Linked DNA regions of Homo sapiens. Changing the gene in region 1 together with any one later gene gives a genetic interaction. Each region holds a gene or a part of one and is shown in the gene's direction. Other genes may lie near its edges.

The links. A genetic interaction does not mean that the proteins touch.
Region 2: of HDAC1 (region 1) and NR2F2, changing one enhances a phenotype caused by changing the other (phenotypic enhancement), as found in Homo sapiens cells (one study listed by BioGRID).
Region 3: of HDAC1 (region 1) and SMARCA4, changing one suppresses a phenotype caused by changing the other (phenotypic suppression), as found in Homo sapiens cells (one study listed by BioGRID).

Annotation. Positions count from the first base shown.
Region 1 is NC_000001.11:32,295,083-32,302,161, forward strand, and holds part of HDAC1 (histone deacetylase 1), read left to right. Parts: intron 1-7,079. UniProt on the Homo sapiens protein: Histone deacetylase that catalyzes the deacetylation of lysine residues on the N-terminal part of the core histones (H2A, H2B, H3 and H4).
Region 2 is NC_000015.10:96,326,733-96,333,699, forward strand, and holds the start of NR2F2 (COUP transcription factor 2), read left to right. Parts: upstream 1-3,967; 5' UTR 3,968-5,373; coding exon 5,374-5,815; intron 5,816-5,832; exon of another isoform or gene 5,833-5,889; intron 5,890-6,528; exon of another isoform or gene 6,529-6,575; intron 6,576-6,967. UniProt on the Homo sapiens protein: Ligand-activated transcription factor. Activated by high concentrations of 9-cis-retinoic acid and all-trans-retinoic acid, but not by dexamethasone, cortisol or progesterone (in vitro). Regulation of the apolipoprotein A-I gene transcription.
Region 3 is NC_000019.10:10,984,951-10,992,029, forward strand, and holds part of SMARCA4 (SWI/SNF-related matrix-associated actin-dependent regulator of chromatin subfamily A member 4), read left to right. Parts: intron 1-322; coding exon 323-455; intron 456-1,238; coding exon 1,239-1,643; intron 1,644-1,954; coding exon 1,955-2,053; intron 2,054-2,715; coding exon 2,716-2,974; intron 2,975-4,366; coding exon 4,367-4,493; intron 4,494-6,199; coding exon 6,200-6,373; intron 6,374-7,079. UniProt on the Homo sapiens protein: ATPase involved in transcriptional activation and repression of select genes by chromatin remodeling (alteration of DNA-nucleosome topology).

The DNA of each region.
Region 1 (7,079 bases):
CAGTATCTTAGTCTGCTATAACAGAACACTGTTTATAAAGAACAGAAATTGCTGAATGTGGTGGCTCACGCCTATAATCCCAGTACTTTGGTAGGCTGGGGCGGATGGTTCTCTTGAGCCCAGGAGTTTGAGACCAGCCTGGGCAACTTAGGGAGACTCTGTCTCTACAAAAAGTAAAAAAATTAGCTGGGCATGATGGCATGTGCCTGTAGAGAGGCTGAAGTGGGAGGATCACTTGATCCTGGGAGGTCGACTCTGCAGTGAGCCATGATCGCACCAGTGCACTCCAGCCTGGGGGACAGAGTGAGACCTTGTGTCAAAAAAAAAAAAAGAACATAAATGTATTTCTCATAGTTCTGGAGGCTGAGAAGTCCAAGGCTAGAAAGTCCAAGATCAGGGTGCCAGCATTTGGTGTCTGGTGAGGGTCTGGTCTCTACTTCCAATATGGTGCTTTGAATTCAGTGTTTTCATATGACAGAAGGTGGAAAGGCAAAAAAGGATAAACTCTGTTTTTTTATATGGCCATTAATGTATTAGTGAGGATGGTAGAGCCCTTGAGACCTAAACACCTCCCAAAAGGCTCCACTTCCAAACACTGTTGGCATTGGGGAATATGTTTCCAACACATGAATTTTGGGGGACACATTCAGACCATAACAATCAGCATATGGATAGTTATTTTATTTGTTTGTTTGTTTGTTTGTTTGTTGTAGAGATGTTGTCTTGCCATGTTGTCCAGGCTGGCCTTGAAGTCCTGGGCTCAGCCTCCCAAAGTGTTGGGATTATAGGCATGACCCACCATTCCTGGCTGCTAGCAATTTTAATTGTAGTAAATTTAGTCATAAAGGATGCAGTCACCCAATAAGTTATATAGAATTCCAGGGTGGAATTCTAAGGAAGTGGATTGAGGAAAAGTTTAGTGCCCCTCATGCTGTGTACTCCCCCGTGATAGTATTTGTCACTGTGTAGAGGAATTGCCCATTTACTTGGTCATATTTCTTGTAGAGAGGAGGCTCTTTAGGGAAAGGGGCCGTGCCTTGTCTACCTCTGTATCCCCAGCACCAAAAACAATGCCTAGCTCATGGTAGGTTCTCAATAAATATTTGTTGATTAAATGTATAATGATAGAGAGTGAGGGGCCGGAGAGGTAGGTGAACCAGAAAGTACTGGGTTGCAGAAGCTAAAGAAGGGAGGGATTGGGCAAGTGTTGGCGGCAACTGGGGCAGAAGCTAGATTGTGGTAGATTGCAGTACATGGATGGCTAACTGAAGAGGAGACATCAGGTTGAACCCTTTTTTTGGAGACAGGGCCTCACTCTGTCACTCAGGCTGGAGTGCAGTGGCATGATCCTGGCTCACTACCACCTCTGCCTCCCAGGCTCAAGCAGTCCTCCCACCTCAGCCTTCCAAGTAGCTGGAACCACAGGTGTGCACCCTTTTTGTATTTTTTGTTTAGAAGACAAACGGTTGTCTTTTGTTTAGAGACAGGATTTCGCCATGTTGCCCAGGCTGGTCTCAAACTCCTGAGCTCAAGTCATCTACCCGCCTCAGCCTCCCAAAGTGCTGGGTTTACAGGCGTGAGCCATCATGCCCAGCTGGTTGAACCCTTTTAAAGGGAAGCTTGTGTGAGGTAGGGAGAGAGGATTGTTGATAAGGGAGATGGAGATGTAGTGGCTAAAAGTTGAGCATATTGAAATAATTCTTATGGAAAATAGCCAGAAGAGAGGGAGAGGCTGAAGATACAGGAAAGGGACTAGTAGTGATGGAGCTTCCTGAGGAGACCAGGGGAGATGGAAACCGGAGCCCAGCTAGAGACACTAACCTTCAACAAATTCCTTTGTGATGCGAGGGTAAATGTCAAGGAAAAGTTCAAATGGAGGTAAGTTTGAAGAGGAGAAGATAAGGAGAAAGTTGAGGGAGTTCTCAAGATCAGGAAAGAGAATATTCCTTTTCCTGAGGGTGGGGTAGGGCAGTTGGTGGAGCAGGAATCTTGAAGAGAGGAGATTTAAATAGCTTTTGCAAAAGTGGGGGGCTAGGGAAAGAAATTTGGAAGGATTGCTGGCAGTGATAAGAATCATTTTGAGGCTGGAACCTGTGATTTTTGTAGTCATATCATTTTGCACAGTTTTATGATAACATTTTATGATAACATTGTCAGTTTAAAAGAAGAAAAAAATGGGCTGGGCATGGTGGTTCACGCCTGTAATCCCAGTAGTTTGGGAGGCCAAGGCGGAAGGATCACTTGAGACCAGGCGTTCAAGACCAGCCTGGGCAACAAAATGAGACCTCCCCCAGCTCTACAAAACAACACAAAAAAATAAGCTGGGTGTGGTGGCACTTGCCTGTAATCGCAGCTACTTGGGAGGTTGAGGTGGGAGACTGAGGCAGGTGGATGGTTTGAGCCCAGGTGGAGCCTGCAGTGACCCATAATGGCACCACTGCACTCAGCTTGAGTGACAAAGCAAGACCCTGCCTCAAAAAAAGAAAAAGAAAAAGTACAAAGACCTCAGTCTTTAGATAAGGGAATAGACTTCTTTTTTTGCGGGGGGGACGGAGTCTTGCTCTGTCGCCCAGGCTGGAGTGCAGTGGCGCCATCTCGGCTCACTGCAAGCTCTGCCTCCAGGGTTCATGCCATTCTCCTGCCTCAGCCTCCCGAGGAGCTGGGACTGGAGGCGCATGACACTACGCCTGGCTAATTTTTTTTTTTTTTTTTTTTTTTTTTTTTTGAGATGGAGTCTTGCTCTTTCACCCAGGCTGGAGCGCAGTGGCGCGATCTCGGCTCACTGCAACCTCCACCTCCCAGGTTCACGCCATTCTCCTGCCTCAGCCTCCCGAGTAACTGGTACTACAGGCGCCTACCACCACACCTGGCCAATTTTTTGTATTTTTAGTAGAGACGGGGTTTCACCGTGTTAGCCAGGATGGTCTCCATCTCCTGACCTTGTGATTCGCCCGCCTCGGCCTCCCAAAGTGGTGGGATTACAGGCGTGAGCCAGCGCGCCCGGCCTTTTTTTTTTTTTTTTGAGACCAAGTTTTGCTCTTGTTGCCCAGGCTGGAGCGCAGTGGCGCAATCTCAACTCACTGCAACCTCCGCCTCCCAGGTTTAAGCGATTCTCCTGCCTCAGCCTTCCTGAGTAGCTGGGATTACAGGCATATGCCACCACGCCCGGCTAATTTTGTATTTTTAGTAGAGACGGGGTTTCTCCATGTTGGTCAGGCTGGTCTTGAACTCTCGACCTCAGATGATCGCCTGCCTCGGCCTCCCAAAGTGTTGGGATTACAGGCGTCAGGCACCGCGCCCGGCCATTTTTTGTATTTTTAGTAGAGACGGGTTTCACCGTGTTAGCCAGGATGTTCTTGATCTCCTTACCTCATGATCCACCCGCCTCGGCCCAAAGTGCTGGGATTACAGGCGTGAGCCACTAGGCCCAGCCGGGAATAGACTTCTTACTTGAGAAACTGAGTTTTGCAGTGAGGTCATTACTTTGGGATTCAGATTTGGCTCTGCCATTGAGAAGCTTTGTAATATCAGGCAAGTCACCTTACATTTCAGATTTCTCTCCTATAAAATCAAAATGATAGGAGTTCCTATTATGAGAACAATGATGGGAAAGCTCTTTAAGAGTTTAAAGTATGGCTGGCGCCATGGCTCACGTCTGTAATCCCAGCACTTTGAGAGGCCGAGGTGGGCGGATCACTTGAGGTCAGGAGTTCAAGACAAGCCTGGGCAACATGGTGAAACCCTGACTCTACTAAAAATACAAAACTTAGCCAGGCGTGGTGGCACATGTCTGTAATCCCAGCTACTCAGGAGGCTGAGGCAGGAGAATTGTTTGAACCTGGGAGGCAGAGGTTGCAGTGAGCCTGAGATCGCACCACTGCACTCCAGCCTGGGTGACAGAGTGAGACTCTGTCTCCAAAAATAAAAATTAAAATTAAGTAGTACCTAAATAAAAAGGACCATTTCTTTTAAAGTCTCTCAGCAACCTGATTAAGATATAGAGATATATCTTTATTTTAATTACAGTAAATTTAATCATAAAGGATGCAGTCACCCAAGAAGTTATATAGAAGAGGATCCAGGGTGGAATTCTAAGGAAGTGGACAGTGTCCCTCATGCTGTGTGCTCCCCTGTCATAGCATTTGTCAATGTGTATAGGAATACACACAGCACGGGTTGGCAAACTAATTAAAAACTGTTAAGAAAAGGATGGTTGGCCTGCACTGTTGGAGGCTCACATCTGTAATCCCAGCACTTTAGAAGGCTGATCAGGAGTTTGAAACCAGCCTGGGCAACAAAGCAAGATGCCATCTCTACAAACAAACAAACAAAAACATCAAACAAAAAAAAACATAAAAAGAAAAGGATGCTGTCTCAGAGCCCCACCCTCACTACCCTCACCTCAGATACTCCCTTAACCTTCTGGATAAGATATCTTAGTCCCCCAGGTCTGAGCCTTGGCTGGATCTAGGCTTGATAGGCAAGGGAGTTGCTAGGGATCAAGGCTCATGCCTTTTTTTCACTGGGTGCCTAGAGCTCTGCCTCATCCTAATAAATCTCTAAGGAGAGATCTTTGGGTGTGTAGTTCACTTGATTTTGCAACATTGTTCAAGGAATTTTCTATCAGGTAGACTTATAGAGCCCTCTAGATTAAGTGCAAACTGAAGTAGGTACCTGAGAAGCCCAATGTAGGGCCTGGCACGGTGGCTCACACCTGTAATCCCAGCACTTTGGGAGGCCGAGGTGGACGGATCACGAGGTCAGGAGATCAAGACCATCCTGGTTAACACGGTGAAACCCCGTCTTTACTAAAAGTACAAAAAAAATTAGCCGGGCTTGATGGCAGGCATCTGTAGTCCCAGCTGCTTGGGAGGCTGAGGCAGGAGAATGGCGTGAACCCTGGAGGCGGAGCTTGCAGTGAGCCGAGATCGCACCACTGCACTCCAGCCTGGGCGACAGAGCGAGACTCTGTCTCAAAAAAAAAGAAAAAAGGAAAATCCAATGTAGCTTTTAGCATATTGGATTTGGAGTCCGAAGAGTGGACTCCAGATCAGTCATTAGCTGTGTGATCTTGAGCAGGCACTTAACTTCTCTGAGTCTCAATTCAATTCATTGAATCTTTATTGAGCCTCTGTGATATACAAGGCATATTAATCCTTGCCTTCAAGGGGTACCCAGTCTTGTGGATATAGTCATGTAAATAATTCAGATATAAAACAATCCTAGCACTTTGGGAGGCTGAGGTGGGCATATCACTTGAGGTGAGGAGTTCCAGACCAGCCAGGCCAACATAGTGAAACCCCACCTCTACTAAATATGAAAATTAGCTGGATTTGGTGGCACGCACCTGTAATCCCAGCAATTTAGGAGGCTGAGGCAGGAGAACTGCTTGAACCTGGGAGGCAGAGGTTGCACTGAGCCGCCGAGATAGTACCATTGCACTCCAGCCTAGGCGACAGAGTGAGACTCCGTCTCAAGAAATAAAAAAAAAAAGAAAAGAAAACTAATGAAGTGCTGTATACAAATTGCATGTAGAGGAAAAGACCATTTATTTTGATCAAGAAAGGGTTTGGAGCTTGAGGTGGGCTTTGTAGTATGAGCATCATCAAAGAAAGGAGGACATTTCAGGTCAAAGGAATAGTCTGCACAGAGGATACTGTGGTGTGAAGGTGAATGTCATGTTCAGGATACTGATCATAATCTGGTGTGTCTGGAGCACAGGTTGGCAAACTTTTTCTATATAGGGCCAGATAGTAAATATTTTAGGCTTTATTTTGCCATATGCTTGGGTGTCTGTGGCAACTAAACTGCTCAGCTCTGCCACTGTAGTGTGAAAACAGCCATAGAGGAACTGTAAACGGATGGGCATGGCTGTGTTCCAATAAAATTTTATTTACCAAAACAGGCAACTAGTTGTATTTGTCCCAAGGGCCATAGTTTGCCTACTCCAGTCTAGAGCAAAGAGAGAGAGAGAGTGAGTGTGTGTGTGTTGTGGGAAAGGGTGGTAGCAGGAGATGAAGCTGGAAAGGCAGGTTAAGAAAGTCCTTGGATGAAGCTGGAAAGGCAGATTAAGAAAGTCCTTGGCCGGGCGCGGTGGCTCATGCCTGTAATCCCAGCACTTTGGGAGGCCGAGGCGGGCAGATCACAAGGTCAGGAGATCAAGACCATCCTGGCTAACACAATGAAACCCCGTCTGTACTAAAAATACAAAAAATTAGCTGGGCATGGTGGCAGGCGCCTGTAGTCCCAGCTACTCGGGAGGCTGAGGCAGGAGAATGGCGTGAACCCTGGAGGCGGAGCTTGCAGTGAGCTGAGATCGCGCCACTGCACTCCAGCCTGGGCAACACAGCGAGACTCTGTCTCAAAAAAATAAATAAATAAAGTAAAAGAAAGTCCTTGAATGCTGGCCAGGCGCGGTGGCTCACACCTGTAATCCCGGCACTTTGGGAGGCCGAGGTGAGTGGATCAACTGAGGTTAGGAGTTTGAGACCAGCCTGACCAACAAGGTGAAACCCCTTCTCTACTAAAAATACAAAAATTAGCCAGGCATGGTAGCACATGCCTGTGATGCCAGCTACTTGAGAGGCTGAGGCAGGAGAATTGTTTGAACCCAGGAGGCGAAGGTTGCAGTGAGCTGAGATTGCACCACTGCACTCCAGCTTGGGCAACAGATCGAGACTTGTCTCAAAAAAAAGAAAGTCCTTGAATGCCAGTCTTCTGAAGTTATTATTATTAAATGTTGAGACCCAGCCTGGTCTTGAACTCCTGGGCTCAAGTGATTTTCCTGCCTCAGCCTCCAGAGTAACTGGGATTACAGGCTCATGCCACCATGCCTATCTCTATTAAAGTTATTCTTTACTCTTTATCCTGTAGGGGATGGGGAGCCATAAGGATTTTTTGAGCGAAGGAGTGATGTTATCAGAATTGTGGATTAGGAAAATAACTCTGGTGACAGTGTGGCAGGTAGTGTGAATTGAAGGTAGAGGGACCAATTAGAAGGCTAGTGTTATAGATTAAGCATGTGATAAGTTTTAGTTTTCTTATCTGTAAGGTGAGAATAATAATACCCCCTGTCCTAC
Region 2 (6,967 bases), on another chromosome or scaffold:
GCAGCAGATGACTCGGTTTTCTAGCAAAGGAGCTGCTAGGCTCGCACTAAGTATCAGAATTTACTGTTCGCTTTGCCTCTGCGCTTCATTTTGCAACCTTGTGCAACTGACAGCCAGGCAGGCAGGGAGGGAGAAAAGCCTAGCCCGGCGCCCTCGGCCACGGTTCGGGTAGGCGAGCGCTCGGTTAAGCTAGGAGGAGAATCGCGACGAGAAGGGTACTCACCATCGGGCGGGGCGGTGGAGCTGGCGTGCGGATTTCAGGCAAACGTTTACCTTTTTGCTGTCTATTGCAACCGCGCCGGGCTGACTTAAGAAGCAATTCTGTGCTCTGTCCAGAACATTCAAGGAGCGGTTCCTCATTTTTAAAAAGCCAGCGAGAGAGACGACAGAGACAGAGAGAAAGAAAAAGAGAGGAGGGGGTGAGGGGGACGCACATAAACCCAGTTCAAAAAAAAAAAAAAATCACCTCTTCGCCAGTGACTCGGGAAACGCAGAGGTGGCGAGATCCGAGTACGGTCCAACCAAGCCAGAGCCAATTAATTTTAAATCCTGAAGAATTATTCAGATTAAAATGTACAGAAGTTTCGTTCTCCTATGCCTACGTGAGTCCAAAGTCGTTTCCCTTTAAGAGCTCCTTTTCTTTTAAAGTTGAATTTTAGGCAGCGAGGACTCTTACACTAGGGGGCAGACAGATACTGTACTTGCTCTAATCTTAAGCAATTTTTTCCCTCCCAGCATATGCTCTGATTTAGCACTGTAAATTTTTCAGAGGACCTAACTCTGACAGCCCCTGGTGATTTTCAAAGTACCACAAGCCAGTGGTTAAAAATTGCATTGACTTGGAAGTTCAGAGGGACACAATGGAAGCCCCTTTCCCTATTCATGGAGCTCCAGTGTGGTGGAAGAGAAAAACACACACGGACTAGATTGAGGGAAAGGAGGAATTCAATGAATCCTGGAGGACGGAACTGGTTTCTACTGAGTTCAGAGTTAAACTCGGCATTTGCTGGGGTCTGTATTCATATTGTGATTCAATCTGTAAAGAAATACAGCCCATCAGGCCACTTTCTGCAAGAAAATTATATTCCTGGGTGTTGAGTTTCTTTCTTTTCTTTTTTAGATTAGGGCAAATGTTGTCCCAACTTTCTCTAGGCAAATTAAAGCTTGCCATTCTTCTCATTATAATAAATTTACATCTGCAAAAAAAGACTGAGTTGGATTTTTAAAAAACAACAATAATATATTGATTTTATCTTCTCAGAGCTTTTTAACCTTAGACGCACAGCAAGTGAGCATCTCTGGAGAAGACATTTAAAAATATTTTTGCCCTTTTTTCTTCTCAGTCTGTAGTCTTGTCTCTTCTTCTATGCATTAAAATTAAGTATAATTCATACGGTGATTTTTTTTCTCCCTTGTAACAGCATTTCATAACTGAATGAGTCCTAAAATACAGAGTGAAACACCCCTGACTTTATGGCAGCCCTGTGATCATTTGCCTAGCAGGCTCCAATTTGTTAAGATATGGTTGGGAAATTATTCCATTTTAATCTAAGGCCATCACGCATACTTCAAATTCCAAAAATCTCTAAGTGGACTGGGGAAGCTCTTCCTCCTCGATATTGTTCCTTCCCATGTTTGTAAAAGGTAATCTGCTATGGAAGTCTCATTCAGGAGGTGAGATGAAGATTTCCCTATAATCAATTATTTTCATCCTCTATTGAGATGGGAATGCCCATTAGATTTCCTATCTCAACCCCAGTCTCATCACATCTCAGCTGAGCTTGTCCCGAATCTGCTGACATTTGTAACATTAGCAATTCCTGAATCATAGAGGTTGGAAGGGAAAACAACAACAACTACCAAAAACCTTCTCCTGTGTAATGATTTCTTTTCCATCCTTCTTATCCTCTTTAGGAGAAAGTTATATTGTGTCTCTAATTAACCTGAAATTCTCAGCTTGGCTTCATTCTGTGGCAATCTTATTACACACCAGGTTTATGATAGTTCAGTGTCCACTATAGGTTTGCTGGGCTTTTTTTTTTTTTTTTAACAACTTTCAAATAAACCGAGAACCTGCAGCTTTAGTGAAATACGTGATTTCATCGGAGAAAGAGTGAGGGCTGAGGTTTCGGGAATGAAGCTTAAAGAAGATTTTTCCTTTCCTAAAAACCAGCCCCTATCTGCCCAGATCTTTAGTCCTTACCTCATATTCTGCCTATGTGTGTAAAGAGAATTGAATGTAAAATGTGATCTATGCATGTCAATTATATGTATGGTTTATTTTTAAAATATCTTTACCCTGTCAATTTTTTTTTCAGCTACCAAGGATGTTTTCTGTGGTCATCAATTTACTCTTCATATGTGTTCATTTCTTTCCTGGAGCTCAGCGTCTTTTGTGTAAAATATTTTAATTGTTCACAAACCTGGTTGGTTTACCGGCATGAGGTTTTTTCTTGGTGCAAAGTGTGTACAAAGGAGACACAATTTTCTTGTATAAATGTGGAATAATGATAATTCACTAACTGGTCATAAACAACAAGTTTACTGCGTTGGAATATAGTGTGTTCTGAGAGCAATTCTACATGTTTGATGTTTAAAACCAGACACCCTGGAATTCAAAGACACAACTGTCTCAATTATTTTAGCACATGGAGCAGAATGGCAATAGGCTATGAAGTTGTTCTTTTTGCAGTGACTTCTTGAGGTAGAATATGGCTTGGGTTTGGTTCTTGTGACCTGTACTAGTATTATTTCCCATTTGGGGCAGAATCTCTGGGTGCGTTTTAATGACTATATGAATGCTTAAAAGGAACTTGAGGAACAATGAAGTCCGTACTCAACTGTTCTATGACCTAGAAGCATAGTCGGTGAAGTCTTTGTCTGTGTACATTGACAAATGTGCATCTGATACATGTGCGCTTACATGTGTGTACAGAGGGTGTGCACAGGGGAGGCTGGGCGGCTGCCTCCTCCTGTCCATCAGTGGGCAGAGGTCTTTCCCCTCTCACCATGACTGGGTGTGTGGCAGGATGTTGGCTGGAGAGTTAGCTAAAACCAGCGAGAGAGGGTAAAGTTGAGGAAAATTGATTCTAATTGCATCATGACAATCAGATGAAGTCTATTTCTGCTTCTCAGCATCCGAGATGCTTTATTTGGGCAATTAAAATGTCAGGCCACATACCTGTGAAATGTTAACCCTACAAGGAATAAACAGAAACAGAACGGCCTTTATCCTCTGAAAAGAATATATGTCATATATATATGTCACCAAACCGAACAAGTGATCAGAGTTAATTAAGAGAAGGGTTTGCCATCACCCGGATCTGGCCAACTCTTTCGTTTGGAAAATGCCTACAAGCTCAGTTCGTGGCACCTTCCCACCCTCACTCCCTATCCCTCTGCAAAGAAACCAGGGAACTTTTCTTTGGCATTGTGGGTACTAAGATGCGCCAGGAGTCCCGGGTGGTGCGCGAGCGGCGGAATTCGTGACATCGCCAAGTTGCGAGAGGCAAACTCCCCGATTCCATCCAAAGCCTCTCGCGGAGCCTTTAAGAGACGTTGTGTGTGCGCGCTGCGCTAGTCTCCCCGCCGGGGCGGAAACCTCGGGTGCGGGATGTGGGGAGAGCAGAGGCAGCGCTCGCAGGGCCAGCACGGGCCCATCCCCCTCTCGGCGGCGGCGGCGGCGGCGGCGCGGCCACCCCGTCCCCGCCCCCCCAACCCCCGGTCCCCCGCGTGCCCCGCGCCGCGCCGGCGACGCCGCTCGCGCTAGGACCGGGCTGCGCCCGCGGCCGCCATGGCGGGGCCGCCGCAGTCCGGCCAATGACGGCGAGGGGGCGGCGCGCGCGCGCCTGGCCAGGCCAACCCCGGCTGCTGCCTTATAAGGCGCGCCGTCGCCATGGCAACGTGCGCTAAGTTGCAGCAGTCGTGTCAAAGTTCACTATATAGAGAGCTCAGTGAGCTGATCGCGGAGAAGCCACTTCTGCCAGCCCCGGCGCCTATAAATCGCATTCCCTCCCGCGCCCCCCTTTTTAGCATATTTGATCACTTTGATTCTCTGTTCTTTTCTCTCCGCGGTGTGTGTGTGCGTGCGCGCGTGTGTGTTTTCTTCTTCTCCTCCTCCTCTCCCCGAGTTGCCTCCTTTCTCCGGGTGCCGTACTGCCTTTTTTCCCCTCTTTCATTCTTTCTCTCCGTCTTTTTCTCCCCCCTCTGCGCACGAAGGATGTGCTTCTAGGTGGTGATCTGCCCTCCTCTCTCTCTTTTATCATTTCTCCCCCGCCGCCGGCGAGTTGACTCTTTCCCTATGTGTGTGAGGCGGCGGCGGCAGCAGCAGCAGCAGCGGCTCCGGCGGCGGCAGCAGCGGCAGCAGCGACTTCAGCGGCGGCGGCGGCGCTAGACGCAGCGGCTCCGGGCCCGACCCGGCGGCTTCGGCGGCGGCTCCGGCGGCAGCGGCGGCCCGGGCGGCCCGCAGGGAACGGCGAGCGGCCTCCACCCAGCGACTGCGGGCGGCGGCGGCCGGAGAGAGCGAGGCGCGCGCCGGACGCCCGGGGCAGGCGGCGGCGGCGGCGGCCCAGCGCCAGGACGACGCCGCGCAGCGCCCGACGCGGACCACTTTCATGCTGATTCCCCCGGACCCGGGCAGCGCTCCGGCCACTCCGCGGGCCGCCGGCCTCCGCCCCGGCCTGCCTGGCTCCCTGGGCGCGCCCGCACCCGGCGCCTCCGATCTCCTAGTCCTCCTGATTTCGATGGCTTTCCTGAATGGCTGACTGTGGGCTGCCCTGGACTTGGCCCCCGGACAGTCGCCTCTCCTCCTCCTCTACCTCCTCCTTCACCACCACCTCCTCTTCCTCCTCCTCCTCCTCCTCCTCCTCCGCCAACTCCTCGGCTGCACACCAGCTCTAAGAGCGAGAGTGAACGAGAGAGGGAGGGAGAGAGTGAGAGCGAGCGAGATCTTTGGAGAGATTTTTTTTTTTGCCTCCTACTTCTGTCTTGAAGCCAGACAATCGACTTCAGCTCTCCCTCCCCTCCCTCTTTCTCCACGTTCTGCTCCCACTCGCTCTCCTGTCCCCTTCCCCTCCCCTCCCGGCGGAAAGCCCCCCGAAACCAACAAAGCTGAGCCGAGAGAAACAAACAAAACAAACACACCGGGCCAGACAAGCCATCGACAAAACTTTGCAAAAGCAAAAACAAAAAAGGAAAAACTAACCAACCTCAACCAACCAGCCCCCGAGCCACCCGGGGCGCCCTCCCGCGCCCTCTTGCACCCTCGCACACACAAAAGGCGGCGCGCCGGAGCCCGAGACCCGGGGAGCCGCCGCCGCCCCGCCGCCGCCCGCAGCCAGGGGAGCAGGAAGTCCGGACGCAGCCCCCATAGATATGGCAATGGTAGTCAGCACGTGGCGCGACCCCCAGGACGAGGTGCCCGGCTCACAGGGCAGCCAGGCCTCGCAGGCGCCGCCCGTGCCCGGCCCGCCGCCCGGCGCCCCGCACACGCCACAGACGCCCGGCCAAGGGGGCCCAGCCAGCACGCCAGCCCAGACGGCGGCCGGTGGCCAGGGCGGCCCTGGCGGCCCGGGTAGCGACAAGCAGCAGCAGCAGCAACACATCGAGTGCGTGGTGTGCGGAGACAAGTCGAGCGGCAAGCACTACGGCCAGTTCACGTGCGAGGGCTGCAAGAGCTTCTTCAAGCGCAGCGTGCGGAGGAACCTGAGCTACACGTGCCGCGCCAACCGGAACTGTCCCATCGACCAGCACCATCGCAACCAGTGCCAGTACTGCCGCCTCAAAAAGTGCCTCAAAGTGGGCATGAGACGGGAAGGTATCGGCCTCTCATTTCTCCTTCCCTCGTCCTGGGTCCCGGGGTCCTGGGTACGTTTGGCTAGCCTGCTCTGGGTAAGGACAAGAAGCCCCAAGCTCTTCTCTTCGTATTGCAGCGGAAAAGGGTTTTATACTAGAAGCGAGTTCTGCATTGGAACCCAGACCCCAAATCCGCATGCTTTGGCCGACTGATTTCCTTCTTTACTCTCTCTTTGGGCTGTTTCCATTTCCTTTGCATTGATTGTGAGTTCACTGGAGTCTGCCTTTCTGCAAGGGATGGGGTGTTTGTTGTTGTTGTTTTAAAGCCTAGTTTACTTCTCTCTCTCTGCCCTTGTTTTTCCTGCATGTTCAACATGTCCCTCCCCCTCACCCCTTTCCCCAGCCCCCACCCTCTCAAAAAAAAAAAAAAAAAAACCTGAGATTGTACTTTTGTACAGGAGGTTCAAATTACAAATGGCAATTTTATGCACTTCGCCGTATTAACGCTGCCGCCCGGGCAGCGCTCATGTGACCCTCCGTGGATTAACATCCTGCTAAAAAAAAAAATACCTCTGCTTTCTTTTTTCCTTTCACTTTTTGAAACGAAGAGAGCGCGATAGGAAGTAGGAAAGGGTGGGCGAGGGGCCCTGGGCGGCTGCTTTCGCTCTGCGCGAGTTGGGTCTTTGTGATATAAAATTCGCCGAGCGCCGCGAGCCGTGCTTTGCCAATGGCGCGCTCGGCGCGGGGCGCGGGCTCCGGGTTGGGGCGAGCCAACGCCGGGGTTTCTTTGTGTTTCTGCGAGAGCGACTCTCCCGGTCCGGAGTCAGATAACAGCCTGGGCCCGAGCCTCGCCGGCTTTCCCCGGCCCTTACAGGCCCTGCCCAGGCTCCGCTAGTGCCGGCCGCCTGCTCCCTGCCTCTCCCGGCTTCCTCTCTCTTTAGCCGGCCTCTCTCTCTCCGCCCTCTCCCTCCGTCTCTTTCTCCGAGCACACTGATTAGACAGACGCCAGACCTCCGCTCTCTGCTTGTCTCTCACTGGGGGGGTTCCCCGCCGGGCTGGGGCTGGGGCTTCGGGGTTTGTGGGAGAGTCGTTCCGGAGTGGCCACAGGCCGTCTGGGGTGGACCCTCGTGCCTTTTGCAAAAGCGCCTCACCCTCCCCCCAGACTCGCCCCTCC
Region 3 (7,079 bases), on another chromosome or scaffold:
CATATTAGCATCCATGAGAAAAGGTGACATTTCTAAGTGTCACGGGCCACAGGAGGTCCCGGGTGGTAGAAGATGAGGATTGCTTGACCACAGTCTCCCATATGCTCGTGCTCCACTGGGCGACATTTATTTTGTGTACCTGTCTCGAGGCCTAAGTAGGTGTCAGAACCTTGCCTTGGAGTCATGCTGGGGACTGGGGAGATGCGCGTCATCTTCGGGTGGCTGTTCTCGGTGCCCTCGAGCTTCTCTCGGGCAGCGCATAGCTGCGCTGCCACCTCACGTTCCACATGCTGACCCTGCCTTGCCATGGTCCCTCTCGCAGCCCATGGAGTCCATGCATGAGAAGGGCATGTCGGACGACCCGCGCTACAACCAGATGAAAGGAATGGGGATGCGGTCAGGGGGCCATGCTGGGATGGGGCCCCCGCCCAGCCCCATGGACCAGCACTCCCAAGGTACAGAACTGCGTTCCTTCCTGCCTTGTGTTTGTCATACTCCAGAGTCCTCAGATCATTTTCCTCCCCTGGGTTCCCACAGGATGGATTCAGGGAGTACCTAGGATGATGTAGCCGGGTGGGTGGCCCGCCACAGAGAGCTGTCTGGCATGGCGTGGCTGGTGCTCTGTTCTGGCCACCTCGTCTCGGAGCAGCCCTGGAAGGGGAAATGCTGGTTGGGGGGCAGACCATGTTCAGCATGGGTGATAGAGGAGGGCTGTGCAGGGCAGCAGCCCCGTGCCACCCAGGAACTTACTGGAAATACAGATTCCTGGGGCCTGGGACTCTGCTTTAATGAGCCCAGCAGGTGCCTTTTCTGTACGAGGACAATTGAGAAGTGATATGGTGGGTGACTTTCCAAGGCCTTGCTGTCATCAGGGGTGGGAAGCTCAGGGGCTGCACTGGGAATGGAAGTGTTGGGGGTGGGCCTGGCGAGCCCGAGGATGTGGACCCCGCCTGTGGACAGGCAGGCGGAAGCCGGGAGAGAGCCGTGATTTCATGCACAGGTTCTCAGCATTAACCAGAAGCACCTTACTGAGACGTGGGCCAAACCAAATCCACCAGGTCGGCTGCTGGGCTGAGGTGCCTTCAGCATGTGCCCTCCAGGTGCCCCTGGTTGACTCAAGAGAAGGATGCCATTTGGCTGTGCCCTGTCTCAGAGTAGGAGCTGGTGTAGGGGGAAGAGGCTGTAAAAATCACAGACATATGCTGCCGAGTGACCAGTGGGCTGACCTTTCTCTGCAGGTTACCCCTCGCCCCTGGGTGGCTCTGAGCATGCCTCTAGTCCAGTTCCAGCCAGTGGCCCGTCTTCGGGGCCCCAGATGTCTTCCGGGCCAGGAGGTGCCCCGCTGGATGGTGCTGACCCCCAGGCCTTGGGGCAGCAGAACCGGGGCCCAACCCCATTTAACCAGAACCAGCTGCACCAGCTCAGAGCTCAGATCATGGCCTACAAGATGCTGGCCAGGGGGCAGCCCCTCCCCGACCACCTGCAGATGGCGGTGCAGGGCAAGCGGCCGATGCCCGGGATGCAGCAGCAGATGCCAACGCTACCTCCACCCTCGGTGTCCGCAACAGGACCCGGCCCTGGCCCTGGCCCTGGCCCCGGCCCGGGTCCCGGCCCGGCACCTCCAAATTACAGCAGGCCTCATGGTAAGACTGGCTGCCCTGGCCCTCAGGTGTCTCAGAGCGAATGGCTGGGGCGTGGGTGGCGGGGTGGACAGACCGTGCTCTGTTGCCGACTGGGTTCCCCGGTTTGGGATTGCACGGGCCCATACTGCACTTCTGGGTGCTCGGGTGGTGGGGGCAGCTAAATGCTGCTTCCCCAGCTCCCCGCTTCCCCTGGGGCCGCTGGTTAATAGGTGTATCTGCTGTGTCCCCTGGAGCCAGGGCTGCCCACGGGGCTGGGCGCAGGCATAAACCTGGGACGCACTGTTTTCTCTTTTGTTTCTCCCTACATGTAGGTATGGGAGGGCCCAACATGCCTCCCCCAGGACCCTCGGGCGTGCCCCCCGGGATGCCAGGCCAGCCTCCTGGAGGGCCTCCCAAGCCCTGGCCTGAAGGTGAGCTCCCTCTTCTATGGTGGTGCACCCGTGCCCTTACTCCCCATCTCAAGCTTGGGTCCTTGAGATGAGCTTTGTCAGGGAGAAAGGGCCGAGGGTGGTCAGGCTGAACTGCAGCCTGTACTTTTCTTGTGGTGGTCCCCGGGTCTCCCCTGTAGCCAGTCAGTTCCCAAAGGCTGTCGTTCATCCCTCCTCTGACAGCTTGTGGCCTTCACCCAGTCCCTGAGCCCTGTATATGTAATTGCTCAGTAAGTGCTGCAGGCTCCCATCTGTTGGGCTCAAAGAGGCAGTGGGACTCATTACCCATCCTCTTGGAGCCTGAGGTTTAGCGATGGGCATTGAGGGGCAAATTGCTTCCACTGGATTTAGTTGGCACTAGGAGGAGATGACAGGAAATGCTGCCATAGAGCCACAGACAGAACAAAAAGGCCTTGGGAGCCTGGGGCTGGCCCCAGTGGAGGGTGTGAAGGACGAGGGTGAGGCTGAGATCTGGAGGAGGTTGGAGCCCAAGGCAGGTGTGAAGGACACCCCTGGGTGAAAGGTGGGAGATGGGCGGGGTCTGCCTGTCCCCAGTGCCTCAAGCAGCTCAGCAGCTTTCCATTTCCAGCCCGGGATGGGCCCCAGAGCTCAACATGACGCCCTGGCCCCTTGCCTTCTCCCAGGACCCATGGCGAATGCTGCTGCCCCCACGAGCACCCCTCAGAAGCTGATTCCCCCGCAGCCAACGGGCCGCCCTTCCCCCGCGCCCCCTGCCGTCCCACCCGCCGCCTCGCCCGTGATGCCACCGCAGACCCAGTCCCCCGGGCAGCCGGCCCAGCCCGCGCCCATGGTGCCACTGCACCAGAAGCAGAGCCGCATCACCCCCATCCAGAAGCCGCGGGGCCTCGACCCTGTGGAGATCCTGCAGGAGCGCGAGTACAGGTGAGGGCGGGGCCCAGTTGCCAAGGTCACTGCCCTGTGTCCCCCATGTCCCCCTGGGGAAGCCACTCAACTTTCTCCCCCACTCTAGCAAACAGTGCCCTGTGCCCACCACTGCCACTTGGCCTACACCTCCTTCCTCACCTCCCTGCTCCCACCCTGGCTGCGGTCTGTTTCCCACACAGCAGTTTGAGTTCTCTCTCTTTTTTTTTTTTTGAGACGGAGTTTCACTCTTGTTGCCCACGCTGGAGTGCAATGGCACAATCTCGGTTCACTGCAACCTGCATCTCCTGGCTTCAAGCGATTCTTCTGCCTCAGCCTCCTGAGTAGCTGGGATTATAGGCATGCGCCACCACACCTGGCTAATTTTGTATTTATTTTAGTAGAGGCAGGGTTTCTCCATGTTGGTCAGGCTGGTCTCGAGCTCCTGACCTCAGATGCTCCCAAAGTGCTGGGATTACAGGCATGAGCCACCGCACCTGGCATGAATTCTCTTTTTATGATTGATATCAGATCTACTCCGTGGATTAAAACCTGCCTGTAGCTTCAATTATCTGCCCAATAAGCTTTGCCTTATGTCCACTCCTGCCCAGCATCCTTCCTCACCCATCCCAGTCTCTCTGTTCCTCTTTTCATTTATTTAACAAGTTAGACTTGTTCCTGCCCCAGGACCTTTGCACAGGCTGTGCATGGCTCCTTCTACTCATTCAGGCCTGATTGCTGGGGTTCCCTCCTCATGGAGGCCCTTCCTGTCACTTCCAGCCACTCTCTGGAATTGCAGTGGATATTTTATTTTTTTTAAATCTCCTTTATGGCCTGTGTTTTCTAATGAGACTGAGAGTTCCTTGCTTTGTTGTTCTTGTTTAGTGCTAAGGCCCTGCACTTAAAATGGTCCCTGGCATACAGTTGGTGCTCAATGAGTATGTGCAGAAAGACTGATTAAGAGAATTAGCCCACATAACCTTCGCATGTAACCTTCGTAACCTTCAGACCAAGCCTCTAGGGTCACTCCGAGGGGTTGCCTCAGTTTTGAGGTGAGAATGCTGAGGTGTGCAGTTGAAATAGATTCCCACCGCCCTGCGCCTCATCCATGCCAGAGCTGCATGAAAACCTTGGCCCGCCTGACGCCAGAACCTGGCTCACACCACTGAAAAGGCATGACCTGGGCGCGTCTATCAGGAATCTTGTTTGCTGTCCCCTGAGGCCCGGTCCTGAGGAGTGCCCCGGGCTATCTCCCTCTCTGCTGTGCCCTGCGGCCAGCATCCTCTTCTGAGGCATCTCTTGCCTCATGACTAGTGCCTGCCTCTCTCGAGGGATGGGTCCCCTGCAGCTCCAGCTGTAACTGGGTGCCCTGGCAACCCTCTCACCGCCTTTGCTCCTTGTCTCTGCTCCCAGGCTGCAGGCTCGCATCGCACACCGAATTCAGGAACTTGAAAACCTTCCCGGGTCCCTGGCCGGGGATTTGCGAACCAAAGCGACCATTGAGCTCAAGGCCCTCAGGCTGCTGAACTTCCAGAGGCAGGTGGGTGCTGGCATGGCCGCAGCTTTCCGAAAAGGGCCTTTGTCACCAACACTGCTGCTAAGGCTCCAAATACGGCTTGCCTGGCTAGTATTACACCTGCCTGGGCTGTGAAAAGCAGCCGTGGCCATCCATGGGCACTCAATCACTGCAGAGCCTTCCTCTTACGGCCTGCGCAGTGCTGGGGACGTGGACCTCACTACCCTAAAGCACTTGCCGCCTCAAAGCAGACTTGTATGGGCTTCTTTCTTCCTTTCCCTTTCCCTTTTTTTTTTTTTTTGGAAACAGTCTTGCTCTATCACCTAGGCTGGAGTGCAGTGGCATAAACTCTGCTCACTGCAACCAACGCCTCCTGGGATCAAGCAATTCTTCTGCTTCAGCCTCCCAAGTAGCTGGGATTACAAGCGTGTGCCACCATGCCTAATTTTTATATTTTTAGTAGAGACAGGGTTTCACCATATTGGCCAGGCTGGTCTCAAACTCTTGACCTCAAATGATCGGCCTGCCTTGGCCTCCCAAAGTGCTGGGATTACAGGCATGAGCCACCACGTGCTGTCCTGCATGGGTCTATTTCTGAGGGTACTGTGCTTAGACCCTGGAGTGCAGTGGAGAGATCACAGCTCACTGCAAACTTGACCTCCCAGGCTCATGTCCTCCTCCCGCTTCAGCCTCCTGAGTAGCTGGGACTATAGGCGTGCACCATTACACCTGGCTATATTTTTCTTTTTTTTGAAACAGAGTCTCACTCTGTCACCCAGGCTGGAGTGCAGTGGTGCCATCTCACCCCACTGTGGCCTCTGCCTCTGTGGTTCAAGTGATTTTCCTGTCTCAGCCACTGAGTAGCTGGGATTACAGGTGTGCACCACCATGCCGGGCTGATTTTTTTGAAGTGCAGTGGCACAATCTTGGCTCACTGCAACCTCTGCCTTCCAGGTTCAAGTGATTCTCCCACCTCAGCCTCCTGAGTAGCTGGGATTACAGGCATGTGCCCCACGCCTGGCTAATTTTTGTATTTTTAGTAGAGACAGTGTTTCACCATGTTGGCCAGGCTGGTCTTAAACTCCTGACCTCAGGTGATCCTCCTGCCTCAGCCTCCCAAAGTGCTGGGATTACAGGCATGAGCCACCACGCAGGCCTGGTTTTTGTATTTTTAATAGACACAGGGTTTCGCCATGTCGCCCAGGCTAGTCTCGAACTCCTGAGCTCAAGCCATCCACCTGTCTCAGCCTCCCAAAGTGCTGGGATTACAGGCATGAGCCACTGCTCCTGGCCGCCTAGTTAATTTTTCTTCTAGTTTTTGTAGAAGTGAGGTCTCTCCATGTTGCCCAGGTTGGTCTCAAACTCCTGGGCTTGAGCAATCCTCCCACCTTGGCCTCCCAAAGTGTTGGGATTACTGGCGTTAAGCCACCACACCCAGCCAAGAGTGTTATACTTCTGAATGACTCCTAAGACGTGTGTGTGGTAGAGGGGAGGCAAGCTGGAGGTCCGAGAGGACCCCCTGGATAGATGTCCAGAAGTGATCACCTTCTGTCCTGTGCTCGCCCTGCCCGGGGGCACCTGCTAGACGTCCCCTGCACACACGGACTGGGTGTGTAAGGCACTTACAATGCTCCTTTAGCGGTGAAGCATGTGACATCACCATACGTGTTTGTCATTGTGGATGCCACAGAGCTGTGCAGTGCGCGGGCTTGTCCTCTTCCCTCCTACAGCTGCGCCAGGAGGTGGTGGTGTGCATGCGGAGGGACACAGCGCTGGAGACAGCCCTCAATGCTAAGGCCTACAAGCGCAGCAAGCGCCAGTCCCTGCGCGAGGCCCGCATCACTGAGAAGCTGGAGAAGCAGCAGAAGATCGAGCAGGAGCGCAAGCGCCGGCAGAAGCACCAGGTACGCTCCGGTGGCCCCAAGGCCCTGCAGCCCGCCCACCTGGCTGCCTGGCTTGTCCAGCGGTTGCCACGGGGCTGTGTTTGCTTTGTTCCTAAACATGCTGCTTGTCTCTCTCTTTTGCTCATTGTAACAGTATTCTAGGTACTGAGAGTGTATTGGTGTAAAAACCCAATGGTAGGGAGAAGATAGTGATGAAATCCACGCGTAGCACGTCTGGAAGGTGATAGGGCACAAAGAAAAATCAAGCCAGGATAGAGAGGAAGGAACGGGCTGTTGTAGAACTGATGTTGGGGGAGTTCTTTCTTTTGGAGGTGACATCTGGGCAGACCCCCAAGGAAGGGAGGCACACAGATCTGTGGGAAAGAGCTTTCTGGGAAAAGGAGAAGGTGCAAGGGCCCTGGGGCTGGAATGTGCCTGTGTTTTCTCTGGAAAGCAAGGACCTGCATGAGCCAGAGTAGAGTGAGTGGCGGGGAGAGCTGGAGGAAGGGAGCGCAGGGAGGTGACGAGCAGGTGATGCAGGGCCTTGCGAGCTGCATGGAGGATTTGGGCTTTTGCTCTGAGTAAAGTGGGAGCCATAGAGGGTTCTGGGCAGTGCAGGGACTGATCTGACTCAGGGTTTCCCAAGATGAATCAGTAAGACGGAAATCTTCAAATCTAAAATCAAGTAAGGATTTGGGGATGATTGTGCTGATTTGGTCATTTATAG